2 separate regions of the Homo sapiens genome follow, and region 2 is linked to region 1. The links come from fine-mapping of genetic effects on gene expression. Tissue or cell type: whole blood. Region 1 holds a variant in brackets; the other region holds the start of a gene. All regions are shown on one strand. Distances are between the middles of the regions.

The links. PIP is the estimated chance that this variant, and not a neighbour inherited with it, causes the effect.
Region 2: NAPB starts here. The variant in region 1 is fine-mapped to the expression of NAPB in whole blood (INTERVAL, PIP 0.97).

The regions. Positions count from the first base shown.
Region 1 is chr20:23,392,289-23,400,392 of GRCh38, forward strand. NAPB (NSF attachment protein beta) reads right to left here. Exons shown (of 11, transcript NM_022080.3): 3 at 4,784-4,900; 4 at 2,851-2,897; 5 at 2,634-2,711. Among named protein-coding and RNA genes, the nearest start is that of NAPB, 25 kb to the right of the region's middle. The variant G/A (reference allele first, on the strand shown) is at 4,890.
Region 2 is chr20:23,417,469-23,425,572 of GRCh38, forward strand. It overlaps NAPB (NSF attachment protein beta), which reads right to left and starts at 4,020. Exons shown (of 11, transcript NM_022080.3): 1 at 3,837-4,020. The coding sequence starts at 3,934. RefSeq lists silencers at 3,009-3,238, 3,869-3,958 and an enhancer at 4,209-4,398.

The sequences.
Region 1 (8,104 bases):
CAGACTATTTCTGTGTGTGACTAAGTATTTGCAAAAAGAGAACCATAGTACACCTGTTCTTTTATAGCTGCATTTTAAAATTCAGTATTCCGTGAAGGTCAGGCATGATGGTCCATGACTGTAATCTCAGCATTTGGGAGGCCAAGATGGGAGGACTGCTTGAGTCCAGGAGTTTGAGACCAGCCTGGGCAACATGAAAAGACCTCATTTGTATGAAAAATTAAAAAATTAGCCGGGCATGGTGGCACATGCCTGTAGTCTCAGCTACTTGGAAGGCTGAGGTGGGAGGATCGCTTGAGCCCAGGAGGCTGAGGCTACAGTGAGCTGTGTTCATGCCACTCCAACCTGTCCAGCCTGTGGAACAGAATGAGGCACACGCCACCATTCCTGGATAGTTTTTTTTTTTATATTTTTAGTAGAGATGGGGATTTCTCATGTTGCCCAGGCTGGTCTTGAACTCCTGGGCTCAAGTGATCCTCCTGCCTTGGCCTCCCAAAGTGGTAGGATTATAGGCATCAGCCACTGTACCTGGCCTTTTTTTTTTCAAGAGAAAAAAAGAGTATGTCACATTTCATTTTATCTGCTCTCAAGTTTATGGAGACCCATGTGTTGGAGACCATGCCTGGGCAGCAGAAATGACACAGCACTGCAGGCTCCTGCCCCAGAGTGCCCTTCTGACCACTGTGAAAGAGGAAGCTGGAACAGGAGCCTCTGCTGGCAAAGATGCTCTGCGCACAGTGCTCATCCCCGCAAGACTCACTCAAACCTAAATAAAGATACTGTGGCCATCCCAGACACCCTGACCAAATAAATACCCCAGCCACACCAGATCCATCTCCCTCCCATTCCATCATCAATTCCACACCAGGGAACAAAGGAGGTTCAGATCCAGCTCCATCACCTGCCTCCAGGATCCACAGATAACCTTCCAAAGAGAAGGCTCACACACACGTCAATGCACAGGGTGGCCCTGACTTGATCAAGATCAGGGAGTATCCTCAGAAAAGTATGGCAATTATAAAAAAAAAAGGTCAAATAATAAATTTTATGTAACAAATATGAGCAAATTTTGTGCTGAATAACCAACAGGTGGAGGTCACACAGTCAAAAGAGTGAACGTTAACAATGCCAGTCCAATTTCAGTAACGCCTAGCAGATCCTTCCCCAGACCAGGAAGACTCCATTTGGTATGGTGGAGGTAGGGGTAGCATTTGTTTATTTAGCAAATATTTAGACCCCACTAGGTCCCAGAGTTCTGGGCTCTTGGGACACATCAGCAAAGCAGAGACAAAGCTCTCTGCTGACACGTGTGCCCAATCTGGCGGAGGGAGAGAGACAACCAAAATGAGAATGATGAGCAAGCATATGAGAGGGCATATTGTAAGGAGACATCTGCTCAGCAATACAAGAAGTTAAGTGAGGTGTGTGGGGATCTACTATGTCTTCCTGGGGGGCTAAATTAACTAGGGGGTCATAATAGTTAATCATGGAAATAGGTAATAAATGAGCAAAAATGGAAGGGCACGGGGAAGTTAGCCATGTGGACTTGAAAGATGTGAGGAGTCAGCCACGTGGACATCTGGGGAAGAGCTTTGCAGACAGAGGAAATCGTGGATACAAAGGTCCTGAGGCAGGAGCGCTCATCTGGCATGTGTGCGGAACAGCAAGGAGGCCAGGATGGCCATGCAGGGTATGCAAGAGGAGGAGAATAACAGAAAAGAGGAGAGGCCAGGCCACACAGATGCATGGGGAGTGTGGGGCTGGGAGGAAGCAATTCAGTGGACCCATGAAGGCTCTGCACAGCTCCAGCTGTTCCTCTTAGTGAAAGGGGTCTAATGACTGTCAGCAGTAGAGAAACAGAGTATGATGCAATGCTTAGAAGGCTCACTCTGGCTACTCTGTGGCATGGGGATGTGGGGTTGGCAAGGTAGGGAGAGCAAAAGCAGGGAGACCGGTTTGAAGGATCCTGCAGCGATCAAGTGTGAGCTGAGAGACAAGGTAGTGAGTTGTGCCAAGACTTGGGAGCAGGAAGGACACCGCTCACAAAAATTGCTCACAGGTTGTAGAGAAAGAGAAAAGGCAAGGAAGCCTGTAGTTTAGCGGGGAACACTGGGTTGGGGACATCTGAGAATCCAGTCCCAGACATGTTGGGTTAGAGATGACTGCTGGACAAAGTGGAGAGGTCAGCAGGCAGGTGGATACAGTAATCTAGCATTTGGAGAGAGGTCTAGGCTGCAGTCAGATTTCTGAGTCACTGGCACACAGATACTTAAAGCTGTGATGCTGACTGAGTGTACAGAGGTGACCTCTTACACTTTCTTCACTGGGCCTTAGAGTACTAAGCAATACAGCTGAAGGTTCTTTTGGCAATGCTAATGTTCTGACATGAATCAGAGAGAGTGGAAACAACAGGTGATCTCTGTAAATCTTAATCAGCTCTCATGTCTTAGATGTCCACTCCAGGAAAACAGCCCATCTACTTAGCCAGCTAGTAGACTTTGCCAGAAAGTCTCCAGGCAAGGCCATCTATGACCACTCTACACCTACGATCACTCTCAGACTGAGGAGAGGAGAGTTCTTTGAGTCAGCTTATCTGCCTGCTTCACATCTGAGGAAGTGTGCCCACTGCTTACCTTCTCAATGTCTACAAGTTCAGTCTCATAGATCTCTGCAATAGTAATGTGGTGCTTGGCTGCAATTGTAAACCTTCCCTAGGGGAAAAAACAAGAAACAGTCACACACCGATTTTACCTATCTGAATGCCAGTTTGGGAACATAAAAAAGAAAGATAGAACTCTAAGCCATCTCAAGACTCCACCCCACAGCCACTCAAGCAATGCAATGTCTTACCATGTCTGTGTAAATGTCGATGGCTGCATTTAAGCAGTTGATAGCCTCTGAAGCGTAGGCATTTAAGAAAAACAATGAAAAATCCATTCAGTCAAAGAGGGTTCAGGTGAGGCTGTCTTCCTGGCTGTTATCAGAACGTTAATGAGGTATAATTTTGGAGTGGAGGGTGGGCAGGTTAATGAGAAGCAAACAAAAATCATGCACAAGTCCAGATTCATCAGCATGGCTTTGTTCCCAGCAGCTATAGTATAATTTAGGGAACTGTAGCTGGAGTAACATTGGCTTAGTTACTCTTAACCTTAAAGTGAGGACTCCATCCAGGCAAAAGACTGTATTATAAAGAAAATAAAACCATAGAGGTTGTCACCAACACTGATAAATTGTATCTGCTAAAATATGAATGCAAACATATTCCTCATTAATACCATGCATATATATTAATTTTGGAACATGGCACCACATCACAAGAACAATCACCTCAATAGATTCTACTCTCCATGCAGCCAAAAGCAAAAGCACTTTGAAATGCCTATTCAAACAACCCTTAAGCAAAGTCAACATTCTGTATAATGTTCAAAGATGCTAAATTGTAGCATACTAACAAAATGAAGAAACAAATCTAATAAATAATAATGCTAATAAATTTTACTAATTTTCTAAACAAGTGAGCCAAAAAATTTTCCCTATCATAAAATGATGGTGTTTATGATGCTGGCATACAGTGACAGCTCCAAGTTTATTACGTTTGGTTTAAAGAGGCAGCAAAGTAGAAAGGCCTGACTACAAAATTAGAAAGGTAAGCAGATGAACAAAAATTAAAACAATTTCCCTCTAAACTACATAAAAAATGTGGATCCCTGTTACACCTTTTAAAATACAGAATATAAAGAGAAAAATAATCTATCAATAATCCCGCTCAAATCCGTTGTTAGTACTCAGATGTACTTTCCTTTTGCGTTTATTAGACACATTTCTATATGCACAAACTTTTTTCTGAAAATGAGATTATACAACATTCAGTCTCATGTGCTTCTTTAATTGACATGTAAACATTTACCAGGTCACTGAAGATTCTCTGAAACCAGGGATTTTAATGCCTGCACCATATTCTAAAGTACTGATGCATTACAATGTTACCACTCTAACAGCTTATTTAACCTGTGTCCAGTTTGTCACTTTGGGAAATAAACTGTGATTAACCCTTATACCAAAGGTATTGAAGATACCCTATTTCTTTATGACATATTTATTCTCAAAATTTGGGATCTGTGTGTTAAACAAAATGGACTGCTAAAAGAAAAAGGAAAAACACAAAATTTCCGCTGTGCACGCGTGTGGAAGGTAAGAAATTAATACTTTTAATTACACTCTTCTAACTAAAAAGAAATAATCTTTGCAAAATTTTACCACATTAAATATCCAATTGCATTCTTTCCTCAAAACAAATACTTTGAAAAACTTTTTAAAAAACCAAATGAATACTGTATGAATCAGACTTTTTAACGATTGAATATTACAATCTCCCATTAACTGGATCTGAAAACTCCTTAGGTATTTAGGAGTAAGGGAACATAAGAGTTTCCTTTTATGAACAATATACATTTTCACAAAATTAAGATATAAGAAGTCTTAGATAAAATTAAAGGTAATTTCCAAAAAATTCTCTAAAATGCAATATAAATAAGAGTTTAATTAAATGATGCTATAAAGTAAACAGCCAGTATAAATTTAACATAATTTCTCCTCATAAAAGCCCCCAAATGATTAAAAAAGAAAAATCCCTAAGGTTATCAAAATTCTCTATTATTCCAAAATACAAAAATTCCTTTTTACCAGGACTTGAAAGCACACCAACACTGACCTTAACGTTGAGGGAAGTACTGACTGGTTAGTTACACACAGAGATAGCATGCTACATGCCTGGCTGTCTTACCTTGGGGATCTGCCTTTTTGTAAGCATTTCCAGCATCCACAAAGCTGGTAGCAGAGTCATGTTTGCTCTGAAGCTGCATGTGGAGCTTGGCTGCCTGACAAAATGC[G/A]TTTCCTGCAGCTGAAGAAGACACTACAATTAAACACAGAGGAACAAGTCCCCCCCAGAGCAGCCCATGCTGTAAGCACTGGACCTCCCTAGAAAAATTATATTCCACTGAAAAGAAGCATTCTAGTCAGAAGCAAAAATCCATGTGGTCCAGTGCACCTCGGGCAAATATAAAAATAACCAGAATCAAGTCAAACAGCGATGAAAGCTTCTCCACCTCAGCTCCAGCAGACTTTCCAAGTGTCCCTGGGCACTAAGCCACTATTCCCTGATCTGTCCATTCAATACCAGTAGCCAAGTCTTGGGCTACTCAATTCAATTCCACTAACATATAATAAACATCAGCTAAGGGCTTCAAGCCACAAATGATTAAAGAAAGGTAAAACACTGAGCGCAAAGATATTTGCTCACTTTTCTATCTTAGTGTCTCCTACACTTAGCTGTCGGTGTGGAAGAAACTGCTAATGAAGGCTTCATGGATAAAGTAAGTTTCCTAAAAAGTGAAAATCAGGCCCACAATTTTGAAATCCAGAAAAGTCTAAAAATCCAAATTTTTTTCTTTACTTTATAGCAAAATCTGACTGAAATTTATATGAGGTTTAATCTATTTTACCCCATTTAGTGTGAGAATTTACAAATTTCCCTGCAGAATCACTGATGGATCTGGTTGTGGGGTACCACCCAGGTCTCCAACTGGGACACAGTACAACATATAAGGTACATGAACTAATCTTTTTCAGAAAAGGTTTTGGATCAGGGACCATGGATTCTGGAGTGCTGGAAAAGAAAGAGGGAAGGAATCGCTAGCAGAGGAGTCACAGGAACACAGAAGAAATGCTTGAAGGTAAGAAAGGGCTGGAAGTGGAGGCCAGTGACAAGCCTGCCCTGACTGGAGGAGGCCAGTGGAAATCAAGGCTGAGGCTGCATCAGGCCACTTCCCAGAGGGTTTAAACATCAACATGCGAAACTTCCTGAGTTCAGAGAAAGCAACACAGCAGAGTGCCTCTGAAAAATGAGTCACATTGGGGAAGTCAGTACAGCAGAAATGGAGAGGAAAGAATCTGATCTACCAGGAAAAGCATGGTTAAGAATATCACAAAGCCTTTAGGTTTCTAAAAAAATTATCATAAAGCAGTACTCACTGCTGATATTAAACATTTGCTATAAATTTTTTTTGTGAGGAAAAAAAATCCAATTCTTTTCTTTTTTTCAAGACAGGGTCTCAATCTGTCACCCAGGCTGCAGTGCAGTGGCGTGATCACAGCTCACTGCAACCTCCACCTCCCAGGATCAAGAGATCCTCCTGCCTCAGCCTCCTGAGTAGCTGCATGTGCCACCACACCTGGCTATTTTTTATTTTTAATTCTTTAAAAAATTTTTTTGGCTGGGTTTGGTGGCTCAAGCCTATAATCCCAGCACTTTGGGAGGCCAAGGCAGGTGGATTACCTGAGGTCAGGAGTTCGAGACCAGCCTGGCCTGAACATAGCGAAACCCTGTCTCTACTAAAAATACAAAAAATTAGCTGGGCATTGTGGCAGGTGCCTATAATCCCAGCTACTTGGGAGGCTGAGGTAGGACAATTGCTTGAATCCGGGAGGCGGAGGTTGCAGTGAGCCGAGACTGTGTCACTGCACTCCAGCCTGGGTGACAGAGCAAGACTCTTGTCTCAAAAAAAAAATTTTTTTTTTTTTTTTTTTTTTTTGTAGAGACAGGTGCTATGTTGCCCAGGCTGGTTTTGAACTTCTGGGCTCAAGCAATCCTCCAGCCTCGGCCTCCCAAAGTGCTGGGATTACAGATGATTATACCTGGCCGTAAACATCCAATTCTGCTAAAGCTTCAGCTGCATCTCTTGTTCCAACTCCCTCTCCCCAGAGGAAATGCACAGTTCTCATGTGGGTTTCTGAACCTGAGGGCAAAGGGACAGTACAAACTCTGGAGCCCACCTGCCCAGGTTCAATTCTTGCTCTGTACCACAGTTTCTGATTAAAAAGAGTACCCAGGCATCTTTGAAAAATATGTAACCACCAGCATGACATGGGTAGTGCTATGATCTGAATGGCAGTATCCCCCCAAAATTTGTATTACTGGAGCCTGATATCCAATTTGACAGTATTAAGAGGTGGGGCCTTTGGGGGAGTGATAAAGTCATGAGAGCACCACCCTCATAAATGGGATGAGTGCCCTTATAAAAGAGGTTGAAGAGAACTGCCTTGTTCCTTCCACCACGTGAGGACATAGCAAGAAGGCGCCATCGTGGAAGGTGAGAACAGTCCTCACCAAATACGGGATCTGCTGGCACCTTGATCTTAAACGACCCAGCCTCCAGAACTCTGAACAATACGTTCATTTTCTTTATAAATTACACTAAGGTATTTTGTTATAGCCGCAGGAAGAAACCAAGGCACTGAACAATCAGAGTACATGCCAGCCTCAGGGCTAGAGCTGGAACTGAAGAAGCCCTGCTGGCCCCTTGTGAATCATGAGAGGCTGGTGGGTATCCAGAAGGGGCAAAGGCCACTGCCAGGACAGTGGCCAGGCACCTGGGGTACTTGGGGCAGCACTTAACCATGAAGTGGCAACTCAGGAACATATCTGGCTAAGTGGGAGCTTTAATGGGCTCTGCCTCAGAAGAACGTAGTAATAGCTTGGACTTCGCAAGTAAAGTGCTTAGAAGGGCCTGACTCACATTACACACGGTGGCCACTTTCATTATTACATGCAAATCTAGCCTTAGATCATATCTGTGGTTTGGCATATTGAAATGCCATCTTTTTTTTACAATCTACATCCTTGCTCTCCTGCTGGCATTTCATTTTTGATAACTTATCTATGTTTCCTGTCTCAGAATCAGTCATGGGCCATCCTTTTCTTGCTCAGTAATACCACAACACCCAGGCTCTTCTGGGCTACCTCCATTTCTCCAGACAACAGTAAGCGCTTTAATTTTACATTTTCACATTCCCACATTCCAAAACGAGTTGCTGGCTTACTTTTTCACTCTGACTATTCATTCCAATCACTGACAGCAAATGCTAGCTCGGTCTATCTAAACTTGGAAGTGTTGGGCCGGGCACAGTGGCTCATGCCTGTAATCCCAGCACTTAGGGTGGATCAGGCACTCCTCGTGGTCAGGAGTTCAAGACCAGCCTGGCCAACATGGAGAAACCCCATCTCTACTAAAAATACAAAATTAGCTGGGCGTGGTGGCACATGCCT
Region 2 (8,104 bases), 25 kb after region 1:
TAGTATTATAAGAGGCTTTTCCAATTCAAAACTATCTTAATGTCAGACTCAGGCCGATTTAAAATCATACCAGTAGTTCATTAACATTATAAACTGGAATTTGAAATTAACTACAAAATTCCATAGCTCATCCCTGGCAACAAACTAAAGGACAAGACAACTCCTTTGGAAGTAGTTTTACTAAACGTACTATACTACAAACTTGAGAAAAAGTTTTAATTCCACAACTACAAAAGCACATTACTGCTTAACGGGCAATTAAGCAGAAACACAAACCACCACAACAGTGGTTTCCTGCAATGTTTGCATCCCTTGTCAGCTCTTTTCCTGGGGAGGAAGGTGGGGATGGGAAAGGAATATTGATACCTTACCTATCAAGCAGATAAGGCAGAGGATTTGTGCCTTACACAGAGAAGAAATATTTGACTGACATGTTCTCATAAATACATATGCATATTTTCATCTAATTTTACTGAAAGCAAGAAACAAAAGCTATAGAATACTACTAAGAATACAGTATTGCCACAAAACCACTGTGAGTGGTAAACACTAGAGAACTCATGACAGGCTTTAATCTGCAGATAGAGCATTCAGAATGTCTGTGATGTGAAATATCTGCAATATGCCAAGCAGCTTTTAATGACTGCCACAACCTGAAAACAGATGGCTTATCCTCTTTAAAGCACCAGCTAGTCAGCTCTTAAATATATGAGCTCTGATGATATTCAAGTCAGTATGTGTGTTTTATTAATTTTGTATTACATTAATTCTGGAGTCTGACATAGAGATGGATTACTCTGCGTTTTAAATAAAGGATTACATGCAGACCTTTAGGAATGAAAATGGTGACATTCTATAGCTAAGAAGGCAGGGGCAGGGTGGAATAACATGTATTCCAGTCTAGAAAGGTGATGATACATGCCATCTATAAGGTAGGATTCTAAACATCTAAAATTGATACAGAATCTTAATTGTCCTACTGACACAGGAACACTACGTCTGTTTTCTGGCTTCAGTAATTATACAATATTACTAAACTCCTAAAATTCTAAGTACTCTTCTTCCTGCAAGCTTTCCTGGAGCAAGTATTACTGGAAATAACAGTCTTCAAAGTATAAATCACACTTGCATGGTACATTAATGGTTAAAGCTCTTTCAGATATTTTATTTCATTAAAAGATCAATGAGGCTGGGCGTGCTGGCTCACGTCTGTAATCCCAGCACTTTGGGAGGCCAAGGCAGGTGGATCACGAGGTCAGGCATTCGAGACCAGCCTGGCCAACACAGTGAAACCCCGTCTCTACTAAAAATACAAAAAAAAAAAAAAAATTAGCCGGGCGTGGTGGCGGGTGGCTGTAATCCCAGCTACTCAGGAGACTGAGGCAGGAGAATCGCTTGAACCTGGGAGGCGGAGGTTGCAGTTAGTTGACATCCCGCCACTGCAATCCAGCCCGGGTGACAGTGTGAGACTCCGTCTCAAAAAAAAAAAATCAATGATGCAGTCTACGGCTCTGAAATTCTGGAAAAGTTATCTGTTTGGCCTACTGCTTCTTTGATAAATAACTGGAGCTGATAATTTTGATGAATATGCTAATTAATATCTCATGGTCACTGTCTCCAACATCCATGGTTCCAAATGTTTTATAAACATAACCTCACTGAACTCCCATAAATTTTGAGATATACTATTATTGTCTCCGTTTTATACACTGGAAACTGAAGCACAGAGAGGCTAAGTAACTTGCCCTAGGTCCCAAAGCTAGATAATAAACCAACCTGTTGTACCCAGGTAAGAACTAAGATGCATTAACTTTTGTGTAACTGAGTGTGAATGGTGAAGATTCGTCTTCTTATATGTCCTGTCAATAACATAGGTAGCAACATTTAAAAGGGAGATGTTTCTTTAAAAACAAAGGCTTTTCAAAATCCTTTAAGGATTATAAGCTCAAGATTTGGCCTAGTTTCCTAAAAACATCGAAAACCTCTTTCCCAAAAGGAGTGTTCTCCTGAGACAAGCACCAAGTGCTGTCAAGCTTTTTCCTCTGCCAGTTACAGACTCTCCCACAGGGAAGCACTTCCTGACTTGAAATAATGTTGTAACATTAAAATAACCTCCTGGCATGAGGTACTATGACATTAAATTTTATTAGAGTGAATTTTAAATGTTTTGTGAATCAAAACATTTAAAAGGAGTTAGTGTGGCGCTAGCACTTGATGGTACTGTCATAACTTTTAAATGCAAAACAAAACATAATTCATAGCTATATCTCCTACACATCACATGAGAAATTTAGAAACCAGCTGTGATAAACGTCCTCTGAGAGGTTCCTGAGGACAGGGACCCTTATCTTCTTGCATTTTTGCAGCCTTTATGCATTTCTGCAGTTATGCGTACTGCATGCAACTTGTCCTTAAGCATTTCCTAAAGACGTATCAATAGCGGTAAAGTATTATAATTTATAGCCAAAAGAATGAAGTTGGCAAAACAAGCTAAGAGCCCATTATGTCTGTCTTCTGAAATAGAGTCTGAACTGAATGTGTACAGAAATAAAATCGTGTCTAGTCATGCAATGGGTTAAGTATCTGCTCTTGGTAACAGCAAAGGATCTTTCACTTTCAAAAGAAAACAACGAAACAGGCACACACAAAATTTCTGCCTTTCTCATCCTAAACAGCTGAATCATTCACATATTCAACAGCCCAGAATTCTTCCGGGCTGTCAGTGCGGGCTCTGCTTTTTGAGAGGTTGGAATTTAAAATCCTCCTTAGGAGAGCACGGAAGAATTACAGGAAATTAAAGGGATTCCCAAAGGACGCCTGACTTAAACAGCAGCAGCGTTACCGTTAATCAAACAGGAGGCTCTGGCTATCAATCAATCTCCGGAGAAGGAAAAATACTATGCTGAGAAAATATATTCGTTCATTAGTCAAGTATTTACTAAAGGTGTACTCGGCGCAAGGCCCCTGGAGAGAGGCCAACAAGCACACCAGCTCTGGATCCCTCGCCGGACCGCCCCCTCCCCGGCGGGGCCCACCTGCAGGCGGGACGCCCCCAGGTGCGCGTTCCAGGCGCCGGGGGCGGCCCCCGCACCCACCCCTCCGGCTCCACCCCGGCGCGCCTCACCCGGACCGGTCTCAGGAGCGATACGGGCTTCAGCGTGGCGAAATGCACCAATACGACTCGCTACGCACTGAGAAGGGGGCCCCACGCGCGCCCCGAGCTACCGCGCCCGCGGGCCTCAGGGAGCCGCTGACCTTCTAGGTCGTGGGACCCCCGCACCAACCCGGGCCAGGGCGAGGGGGGCGATCTGGGGTCTCCAGAGGGCGCGTGAGGCTGACAGCCCCCCCCCCAGAGTGTTCTAGGGGCTTCGTGGGGCGCTTGGGGAGCTCTGGGGGTCCTAGGGGTTCTCTGAAAGGCGCGTGGGGGCTGAGGGTCCCTGTGAGACTCTGGGGATTCTAAGGGGGCGTGTTAGGGGATCCGGAGAGCGTGTGGGGGCTGAGGAACCCTGGGGAGTTCTGCCGGCCCTAGGGGGTCTCTAAAGTGCGCGTGGGGGCTGAGAGCCCCTGGGAGGATGCGGGGTTTCCAGGGACCCTGGGGGGGCCTGTGGGGTCTCTGGAGGGCGCGTGCGGACTGAGGGCCCCTGGGCGTCCTGGGGGCTCCAGGGGGCGCTGGGGGACCCTACAGGATTTCTGGAGGGCGCCTGCAGGCTGAGGGCCCCTAGACGTGGTCTGAGGGCCCCAGAGGTTGCGTGGGGGACTCGGGGGGTCAGCCTGAAAGGAAGGGGGCCAAGTACGGAGACCCCCCCCCCCCAGGGCACGCACGGTCTGGCGCTCACCCAAACAGCCCTCGGAGGAAGGAGTGGGAGGCCTTGACTCGCTTCTCGGCCTCCGCCATCAGCTGTACTGCCTCACGCTCCTTCCCCGCGTTGTCCATGTCGCCCGCCGCGGCCGCCACAGCCCCCTCAGCCGGCTCGCTGTGCGCCCAGGCGCCTTAACCCTCCCTCTGGCGGCCGCAGGGACGCAGGCGCAGGCGCGACGCGCGAGGCCTTTCGGGAGCTGTAGTCCGGGTCCTGTCATGGCGGCGGGGATTCGCGAGCCGCCTACTACAGTTCCCAGGAGGCCCCGGGGCGGGGTGTGTGTGAGCCGAGCTTGCGCACCGCTAGCTCCCAGGACGTCGGCGCAGGGGGCGTGACCCCCCCAAAGGGGTCCTGGGCCAAGGTGAACTTTAATTTTGTATGTATGCAGAAATGGAAAAATGATCCGTGGCCTCTAGTAAAGATCACCTCCTCAGTAAGACTCGCATGGCAATGGGATGGATGAAGGAACAGGGGATAACAGATTGGATGGAACCCACACCCTTCATGCAAGTTCTGCAAAAGAGAATCTGGTGTAGCCACCAAAGCATCACATGCTTGATACCGCCCACCAAAAAACGAGCAACAGCTGGCAATAAGAGCCATTTTTATCTCCAAGAGCAAGACGTCCCCAATATAAGTTCAGTTATTTTTAAATCTCCCCAAACTGTAACTTTCTGTTGGTCCTCTCTTCCTTGGTTATAAATGAGTTGCATATATGCAATATATGCATAATCCACTCTTTTGTTGACTGAATTATATTCAATGGATGTGAACCATTGAACTCTTATCCTTTACATAATACTGGCCATAGTGGATGGATCTCCAGGGACAAAATGTTTGCCTGCCAGGAAGACTTCTAATCTCCTAGGAGAAGTATCCATAGATAGATGGGATCCTGTGCCAGAGACTTTCAGGCCTGTCCCAGAGGGAGTTATTTTTGAAGACAATGTCTAGACCATTCAAGCTTGGCAGTGCTAAGGCAGAGATGCTGAAACTAATAAGAAAATCACTGCCAAGTGAGATTTATGACAGTTTCAAACTGTTAATAAATACACTCTGGGCACTGGCATGCAAAATTTTAGAAAATGAAGACTGTCTGTAGAGGGCAAGGCAAGAGGGGCCAAACTCCTAGAAAGAAAGTTGACTAAAGCACATGTCACAGAGTTCATACATTTCAGGACTCCGTAGAGATAGAAAGAAATCTCAGCTCTTCGTGCAGTTTATTTACGATTACTACATGCATTATTCTAACTTTGAAAAGCTGAGCTGTGTGTTTTTGGAGAGAGAAGGAGGCGGGAAATTGGAGGTGACCGTAAATGCAGGGGAGACCAGAGAAAAACTGTAAAAAGTGAACATAAGCATTTGGAAAGCAGAGCAGTCTATGGGGGCTTAATGGAGTGAGGCTAAGTCAAAAGCTCCTAAGTAAATCAGTGTGTTGATTAAATCAGTTGTTCCCTAACGTGGTTCGATGCAGAAGCTCTAATGGATATTTAAGAAATACTGATTCCTAGGCCACTGGGTTTTGGTATCAAGGTCTCTTGCAGCTGGGGTCTAGAAAATGCACATTTTGAAAAGAACTCTCCATCCCTATCCTAAAGCACACAGTTCTAGATTCTCATATCTGTAGTCAGTTGAAAAGGAGCTGGAACAGACTGCCTCCCCGAAGCTAGCACTTGCAATTAAGAGAGACATTTTTGGTGGTTTCTAGTAATTTCCTTCATTCTCTTCTTTGTCACAGGAAATTTGTGGGCACTCCCACCGTTCTGCCAGTCCACACCAAAGTGGGAGAAAACCTTCAAACCTTAATTACTGGGTAGAGCTAGTGTTTTATTCTCCCAAAGGCTGGGGGAGGAAAGGAGGCAGGGCAGAGAGATGAACCTCACAGAATAAGGCCTGACTAGAGAGACAGCTGAGGAATCCTTGAAACAAGAAGGAAAAGGAAAGGAGAAGCACCCCTGGTGTGGATCAGGAGAAGAATAGAAGTCATCTTGGAGAAGAGCCAAAGGACCCACTGCCCACACCTGCGCTGCCCAGGATGGAGCCACTCACCACTGGTGGCTATTTACATTCAAGTTAAATAATATTAAATAAAATGTAAAGTTCCATTTCTTGGCTGTACTAGCCGTATTTCAAGTGCTCAATAGCCACACATAGCCAGTGGCTACTGAAAGAGTTATAAATATAGCATCCTGGTGGATTGACTAAGTTAGACACCTGGTGGATTGACTAAGTTAGATACTTGAGGGCGGTGGCTCACGCCTGTAATCCCAGCACTTTGGGAGGCCAAGGCAAGCGGATCACTTGAGGTGAGTAGTTCAAGACCAACCTGGCCAACACAGTAAAACCCCATCTCTACCAAAAATACAAAATTTACAAAAAATACAAAAATTAGTTAGGTGTCGTGGTGCATGCCTGTAATCCCAGCTACTCAGGAGGCTGAGGCAGGAGAATCACTTGAACCTGAGAGGTGGAACAGAGGTTGCAGTGAGCCGAGATTGCACCATTACACTCCAGCCTGGGCGACAGAGTGAGTGAGACTCTGCTCAAAAAAAAAAAAAAAAGTTAGACACCCAAAAAACGACAGGTGCAAGAAGATTATTTTGACTTTTTCTTTTCTTTTTTGCATACAGAATACACACTGGACACTTTGACCTCTTGTTTCTTTCTTTCTTTTTTTTTTTTTTTTGAGACAGAGTTTCACTCTGTTGCCCAGGCCAGAGTGCAGTGGCTCACTGCAAGTTCCGCCTCCCAGGTTCACGCCATTCTCCTGCCTCAGCCTCCCAAGTAGCTGGGACTACAGGCACCCACCACCACACCCGGCTAATTTTTTGGATTTTTAGTAGAGACGGGGTTTCACTGTGTTAGCCAGCATGGTCTCGATCTCCTGACCTCGTGATCCACCAGCCTCGGCCTCCCAAAGTGCTGGGATTACAGGCGTGAGCCACCGCGCCTGGCCCCAACCTCTTGTTTATTTAAAGGCAAGAGATGAAATTCCCATATGAAAGATGTCCCTCTTATACTAGAACTAAAGCAACATTCTTATCATCAAAGACAGGAAGTTGAGGCTAAGAGAATTCTGTACAAACCCTATTAAACTAACCCTTATCTTCTTAGTCACTTTTCTATCCAATTAACTACCCTAGCCCAAGCCCCTCTGCCTCATCACATTTTCAGTTTACTATTCTTTGTCCAATTCAGTAAATAAGTAACACACTCTAACTGCCTCTTTGGGTTTTCATTTCCTTATGAGGCCTCCCATGCCATGTAAAACTTGTATCAAATACACCTGTGTGCTTTCCTGCTATTAACTTGTCTTATGTAAGTTTAATTTTCAGACTCCACCAGGAGCCTGAGATGCCCCCCTACACTACTATATGGACTGCACAGACAGAGAACAATTTTATCATTCCACAAGTCCTAGTGGATGGCACTAGCCTCTATGTGCTTTGCTTTTCAGAAGTTCTGGACACTTGTAAGAAAAGAAGAAAAAGGCTTCAGGGAGTTTCTGAGAAGGCAGAGCAGGAAAGGAGCGTAGCCTGAACAAGGCAGAGCCAACAGTACTGCTGGCTTTTCCCTGTGAGAAGATGGAGGTGGACACCTGGACACTCAGACTGAATCAGCACATACCCCGAAAGATGATCCATCAAGACAGGGCTGAAGCTACTTGAGAACCCCAATACTAAGAAAGCCAGAGTCAGAAAAGAACAGAATCGATATGGGGAAAGGGTGTAGCCATCTGTGTGTGTTCACAGAAGGGGAGAAAGCACCAGGCAAAGATCCAGTATGGAAAATTATGGGACATCACTGCTGCTTCACTGAAGCAAAGCAAGAAGGCTCACCCACATTAAAGGGGAGGGAAATGAGACGACATCTCCTGATGGGAGGGCCTCTGAGGATTTGCAGATGTTTTCACACCACGACAGCTAGGTTAGAGGGAGTCCGTGCTCACCCTGGTCCACTCTGGTTGCATTGACAAAGTTGGGAAGCTGGAGCCCCTACGCTGGCGTTGGGGGACAGCCTTCAGCTCACATGGCCCTGCATGGCATGGCCCAACGGTCCCTGCCCAGGTCTGCAGTGGCCTTCTCTGATGACATCTCAGCCTTCGTTCTGCCTGAAATGCTAAGCGTGGCTCAGAGTCATCGGACAAGGTCAAACCATCTAAAGCAGAGTGTTCTGCTTCAGAAGGCAGGGAAGGAAGAAGTCCATTTCAGGAGGCTCTTCACCCAAAATCGTTAAAGGAATGCATT